2 linked regions of the Homo sapiens genome follow. The protein of the gene in region 2 interacts with the protein of the main gene of each other region in a pairwise test. Each region holds a gene or a part of one and is shown on either strand. Other genes may lie near its edges.

Region 1 (3,500 bases), on a different chromosome or scaffold from region 2:
GAACCATTCTGGATTAAGCTGATCCAGGCAGATGTATTAAAGCAGACACTTAGGGTGGGGTATCTGTGAGTGATTATGGACAATACGGAAGAGTAGAGAAGGGTTGGTTCTATAAGTTATAAGGCCAAGTCTAAATCCTGATGCAGACTCTCAACTGCTGCAATTCTGGGATAGCAACTTCACCTCTCAGCCTCAGTTTCTCCTACTCTCAAAGCAGGATAATCCCACCTGCCTCAATAGACTGCTTTTAGGATCACATGCAATAATGTAAATAACAATTGCAAAATGGCTGGCAATTTATAAAGTGCTTTCCTGTGCATTACTGGTGTTATTACCTTGGCGAAATTTTAGCCTACTGACCTCTAGCAGTTTCTATTCTTACACTGTAAATCTTATGGGATGGGCTCCAACACAACCATTGCAGTATGTGTTCTCCCATATGTGGGTGATTATATAAAAAGAAACACATCTTATCTCTCCAAACACTGAGGTTTTTCATCCATTCATCTAAGCACTCAACAAACAATAATTATATTTTAACATCCTGACTGAATGTAGTTATTAGGCATTAAAGATGTGAAGACAGTGAGATGAAGAGCCTCGTCTCTGATTAAAGAATGTTGTTACACGAGAGCTAAGAATCAGCTCAACTTGCACAACCTGCAGTATTAAGAAAGATGACCTTTGTAAAGCCAATTTTACAGTTGTGAAAGAACAAAAAATTTCAAGGTGGTATCTGAACATACTAAAAACATACATAATAGCTTTACGTGTAAAAATGAACTGTTGGGAATGAAGTATTATTCATTAACCCCTATAGTAGTATAATTTTTCTCAATCAATCATAAACTGTGCATTAGTTACAAATAATCTTAGGTAGGTGTTGTAAACATCAGAATACACTTCAAAAAGGAAATTTCAAATATATTAACATCTTTATTAATATTTGAAAAAACAAACAAAAGAAAGCCCAGTTATACAGTTGAAAAGCACAGAGCTTGAAACTTTTCTACTTTGGAAGGTATTTTGTCATCAATACAGGGTGTTAAAGCAATTATCAAACTCATTTTGACATAAGTCAGAGATCATTTAAATTGTTTGTAGGTTTGACATAAAATTCTTGAAAGCAAATCTGGGAAATGATGGCACTAGCAGGACTTTGTAGAATATAAAAAGGGCATTTTCTCAGAAAACAAACTATTTTACGCCTGAATAGCGTTACCTGGCATTGACTGGGGTCATAGGGTCATAGAATTCTTGAACGATTCTATTGCCATACCATGCTGTGGCAACTAAAATAGCCAGACCTATAGAAATTCAAAACAAAAGACTGTTAATCACCATGGAACACTGAGCCTAAATACACAACCTGTTAAACCAAAACATATTTTGCAAGAATTAAATCTCATCAATAGTGTTGACATTTTTATTTTGGTATTAGGGAGATTAGAAGTCCAGATATGATTTATTCCAAGTATCTATTAAAATATAAAAAAATACTAGGTTGGCATTAGACAAAATTTATACTTTTTTATGATATCTTGGCACAAATAATTCTTTTTTGGAAACAATTAGGCAGGTGTATGTTGTACAAAATCTCTTTTAAATATGCTGTTATACATTAGGATACTAAACTACATTTGATAAAACTATTGTCATTATTAGTACAGGTAGAATTACTTGCAAAAGGGGAAGATGAAAACTCTTCTATGTTCTTGATCAAACTCAAAATTTACATTTCTGCAGAGTCAAAAGGAATGCAAGCAGCTAGATAGAGTGAGATCAGGACATGTCTCAGAATGGACCAGAATACCTGCATTACTACTGCCCCATTGGCCAAGGGAATACCTGATATAGGTATAGGTTGGCCTGAGATTTGTTGAGGGTGCCACATCAGATCAATTTATGCAACCCAATCTCAATTTCCCATGGCATTTTATATTCAATGATAGCAGAGAAATCATTTAGTCAAAATCATTCACTTAATCATTTATAAGATGTATAAAATACTTCATTTTTTTATCAAAAAAGTTAAATAACTTTTTTGTAGTAATTCTAAGTATTCATCAATATAGATAGATTAGATGTTTCTATGCTACTGTCTCTCCCCAGCCAAAAACATGGTCCAATGTAATTGCCTCTAGACATGACAGAAAACACTATTGCTTTTGGCTTCTCAAATAGACCATGCGAATGGTCTTGAACTTGTGATGCTTACTCCTAAGAGAAGTCCCTGAAACTGGAATAGGAGTGATGCAGTCACATGTGGGAGTTACAAGAAGGCAAGCGAAGGAAGAATGCAATGCATTTCATCCTCATCGTCTTCCAAGCACTTCATACACTTCATGCCACGATGGCCACAAAGATTACTATTCGCAGCCTTTGATATAAGAGTAAATTATTGGGAATAAGACACTATCCATGCCTTTTCAGAGAGGAGTCAATTTGTATTTGGGTAAACTGAGAGACTGGTCATTTTAAACTAACCACATCTTTAGCAAAGCCACAGATACTCTTCCTCAATTACTGGTTAAACTGACATATTATACTGAAGCAAAAGCCCCTACAAGTCTTCTGTCAAAAAGAAAATAAGAAAATAAAGTCTATTCTAGTTTTTTTCTATTAGTAGATTTGTATCATTAATTATATCTGTTATTTTTTTAAAATAATATACTATAATATACTACATATATAATATATGCATCTAATACCTAATATAGAGAACATATAGTAGTCTATTATTATAGCTGTATAATTTATATGGAGATTATCAACATATATAACACAGTGTATAGATATAAAGATATATATATACACACAGAGAGATTGCATATGTATGTACATATACACACGTAAGTATACATACACTATAATTTTTTAAATAGGCATTATTATAAAGCTTTGAAATAATGCTGTCCATGTTTTCTGACTTTGATTTTCTCAAATGACACATAATGTAACTTATCAATCAACACTTGAATTAAAAAACAGATATTTCTTTTCTTTTCTTTTTTCTTTTTTTTTTAGACAGTCTTCTGTTGCTTAGGCTGGAGTGCAGTGGTGCGATCTCGGCTCCCGAGTTGAGGTGATTCTCATGCCTCAGCCTCTGGAGTATATGGGATTACAGGCGTGCACCACCACACCCAGCTAATTTTTGTGTTTTCAGTAGAGATGGGGTTTCACCATGTTGGCCAGGCTGGTCTTGAACTCACGACCTCAGGTGATCCGCCCTCCTCAGCCTCCAAAAGTGCTGGGATTACAGGCGTGAACCACCACACCTGGCCTAAAAAACACGTATTTATTTTAAATGGAAAATATAATATTATTTTATCAAAAAAATTTAAAGGTATTTCTGTATTTTTTTTTTCCTAACTGCTTTAAACTGACCATTCCAACAGGCCACCTCTACTCCAGTTGGCCTTTCTTTTCATTGATCTACAGGCACATCCTGTTTATTCTCGAATTAGATCTGCCCAGCTGGAATGCTATCCTTATTTTTC
Region 2 (3,500 bases):
AGTGAGCTGAGATCACGCCACTGCACTCTAGCCTGGGCAACAGAGTGAGACTCCATCTCAAAAAAAAAAAAAAAAAAAAAGACAGTAGGACAACTGGAATTAAGATAAACTTCTGCCAGATTCAAGATCCAATACTGTTTCCATCACAAGGCTTCCAATTCAGTCAGGCACAGACTGCACACTCAGTCAGTACCTGTTTCCTTCCACCACATCAATGAGGTCATCAGCTGTAGCATCACTACGTAGAGTCACATCGGCATTATGAATCTTGTATTCAGCCAGAATGCTCTTCACAGTTTCAGCATCCAGCTCACTCTGGGGGCACTGAAAGGGAATAGCAGATGACTAGTCAGCACAAAATTTAAAAAAAATACTTGTCAAGTGTACCAATATCCATGTACCTGGAAAATTCTAGCTAAGATGCAAACTCATTACTAAATACATCCGGGATGAGTGTCACTGACTTTTAGTAGGAAATAAATGTCCAAACTCCAAGGAAGGTGTTACACGCTGAACTGTGTTCCTCCTTCCCCCACCAAATAATTCACATGAAGTCTTAACCTCAGTATCTCAGAATGTGATGTATTTGGAGATAGGGTCTTTAAAGCGGTAATCAAATTAGAATAAGGTCATTAGGGTGGGGCCATAATCCAATACTGGTGGTCCTAATAAGAAAAGGAGATTAGGACACAGACACACAGAGCAAACACCATATGAAGTCCCATCTGTAAGCCAAGGACAGAAGCCTCAGAAGAAATCAACCCTGCCATCAACTTCATCTCAGACTTCTAGCCTCTAGAATTATGAAAAATAAATTTCTGTTATTTAAGCCACCCATCTGTGGTACCGTATTATGGCAGCACTGAAACTAACACAGAAATAATCTTAAATGTTCAAATTTGAATATTAAGACGGGATAATGGGAAAGATGTTTTGGGCAGGACAGCTGAAACCTATGCCAGTCAAATCATCTGGGCTCTGAAGTGTTAAATTTAGTAGGAAACTCTCAGTCCTCAATTCTGACAGAGAAGCAGCATTTGACAGAATTGGTCACTCCTATGTGAAACACTTTACTTGGCTTCCAGTATTTCAAACTCTTTCAGTTTTCCTTCTCTCTCTTGGTCTAAGAAGTCTTATTTCTCTGAGTCTCTTTTCTTTCTTTTTTTTCTTTTGAGACGGAGTTTTGCTCTTGTTGCCCAGGCTGGAGTGCAGTGGCGCGATCTCAGCTCACTGCAACCTCCGCCTCCTGGGTTCAAGCAATTCTCCTGCCTCAGCCTCCGAAGTACCAGGATCACAGGCACGTGCCACCACGCCTGGCTAATTTTTGTATTTTTAGTACAGACAGGGTTTTGCCATGTTGGTCAGGCTGGCCTCCAACTCCTGACCTCATGTAATCTGCCCACTTCGGCCTCCCAAAGTGTTGGGATTACAGGCGTAAGCCACCGTGCCTGGCCGATTCTCTTTTCTTTTCTTTCTTTCTTTCTTTTTTTTTTTGAGACGGAGTCCCGCTCTGTCACCAGGCTGGAGTGCAGTGGCGTCATCTCGGCTCACTGCAACCTCCACCTCTTGGGTTCGATTCTCCTGCCTCAGCCTCCCGAGTAGCTGAGATTACAAGTGCGTGCCACCATGCCCGGCTAATTTTTGTGTTTTTAGTAGATACAGGGTTTCACCATGTTGGCCAGGATGGTCTCCATCTCTTGACCTTGTGATCCGCCCACCTCGGACTCCCAAAGTACTGGGATTACAGGTGTGAGCCACTGCACCCAGCTCTCTTTTCTTTTCTATCTATACTCACATCCTTGGTGATCTCAGTTAGGCCCATGACATTAAAGTTGATAATCACCAAATTTATATATCCAGCCTAGATAATTCCTCATGCCTTCTTTATTATTTTTATAGAGATGGGGTCTCACTTTGTTGCCCAAGCTGGTCTTGAACTCCTGGGCTCAAGTGATCCTCCTGCCTCAACCTCCCAAAGTGCTGGGATTATAGATGTACAGGCATGAGCCACCATGCCCAGCCTACCCCACATGCCCTCTTGACTGAAATACCTGGATGTCTCACTGGCATCTAAAATTTAACATCCTGATCTTCTCCTTCCCTCCAAATCTATTCTACCAAAAGTCCTACCATTTTAGTAATAAGAGTTCATTTTTTTTTTAGCTCAGGAAATAAAAAACATGGCTGGGTATGGTGGCTCATACCTGTAATCCCAACACTTTGGGAGACCGAAGCAGGAGACAGCTTGAGGCCAAAAGTTCAAGACCAGCCTGGGCAACATGGCAAATCTCCGTTTCTACCAAAAAAAAAAAAAAAAAAAAAAATTAGCCAAGCCTGGAGGCATGTGACTTAGCCCTAGCTACTTAGAAGGCTGAGGCAGGAGGGTCACTTGAGCCCAAGAGTTTTGAGCTAACAGTGAACTATGATTGTGCCACTGTACTCCAGCCTAAGCAACAGAATGAAACCGACCAGCCTGGCCAACATGGTGAAACCCCGTCTCTACTAAAAATACAAAAGTTAGCTGGGTGCGATGGCAGGCACCTGTAATCCCAGCTACTCAGGAGGTTGAGGCATGAAGCAAATGCTCTTCTTCAAGATATCCACTTGGTTCACACCTTCATGTCACCTCAGTAAAGACTTCCCTGACCAACGTTCTTAAAACTGCAACCCTCACACCAACACTCTTATCTCCTTTCCCTACTTTGTGTTCTTATATTTATCATTGACGAATACATTATATTTTACTCATTAACATTGTTTTCTATTCTATCCAATTAGAATATAAAAGCAGGGGGTTTCACTATTCCCTCTTCCATTCCTGCCCAGAGCCTAAAATAATGCTTGGCCCGTGGTAGGCACTCTATAAATTTGTGTTAAATGAATGAAAACAGAAGATATTGGCGGCCATCTACTTTATGCAAGCATAATATTGGTCCACACGCCCATATCATTCCCAATAGATAATCCAAAAGAGGAAATAAGTAGCAAAGGTAAGTCTGAGACTGGCTCCTATCCTAATCTTGAAGTTTTTCTTGTCAGTCATTATAAAGTCATTGTGTTATCTCAATTAGTGCAGGGAAAAGCCAGGAAATTTTCCAATGTCAGGGTCCATGCACCCCAATCCACTCCCCATTCCAATTCCTGCAGCAGCCTGCCCCATGTCATATTCCCCACTTACAGTGGCTGTGAGATTAATGCCTCCCTTGTCCTTCTTCTTAAAGCCAATGTTGGGGGGTTTGCTGTTCAAGCGAATGCCAAAGCCTTCCAGCTCATTTTCAATTATCTTCTTATGTCCCAAAGGTTTCAGGACATCCAGAACAATCAAGATCAAGTTACAGGTTCGGGCCACTGAAGAGTAAGAAAAAAACATACGCAAGAAAGTTCAATAAAGCCTTAACTAACCCAAATACTCAAGTAGAGGTGTTTTTTCCCCCTACATTTAAGTGTCAAAGGATTTTTCTGTAATACATACATGCATACGTGAAGTTCTTATAGCTACA

The links. Proteins that work in one complex are often made in the same cells at the same time.
Region 1: the proteins of DRG1 (region 2) and CLDN1 interact in a two-hybrid assay, tested with the Homo sapiens proteins (one large-scale study listed by BioGRID and IntAct).

What each region holds. Positions count from the first base shown.
Region 1 is NC_000003.12:190,308,947-190,312,446, forward strand, and holds part of CLDN1 (claudin-1), read right to left. Parts: intron 1,308-3,500; coding exon 1,223-1,307; intron 1-1,222.
Region 2 is NC_000022.11:31,420,104-31,423,603, reverse strand, and holds part of DRG1 (developmentally-regulated GTP-binding protein 1), read right to left. Parts: intron 3,349-3,500; coding exon 3,179-3,348; intron 325-3,178; coding exon 194-324; intron 1-193. UniProt on the Homo sapiens protein: Catalyzes the conversion of GTP to GDP through hydrolysis of the gamma-phosphate bond in GTP. Appears to have an intrinsic GTPase activity that is stimulated by ZC3H15/DFRP1 binding likely by increasing the affinity for the potassium ions.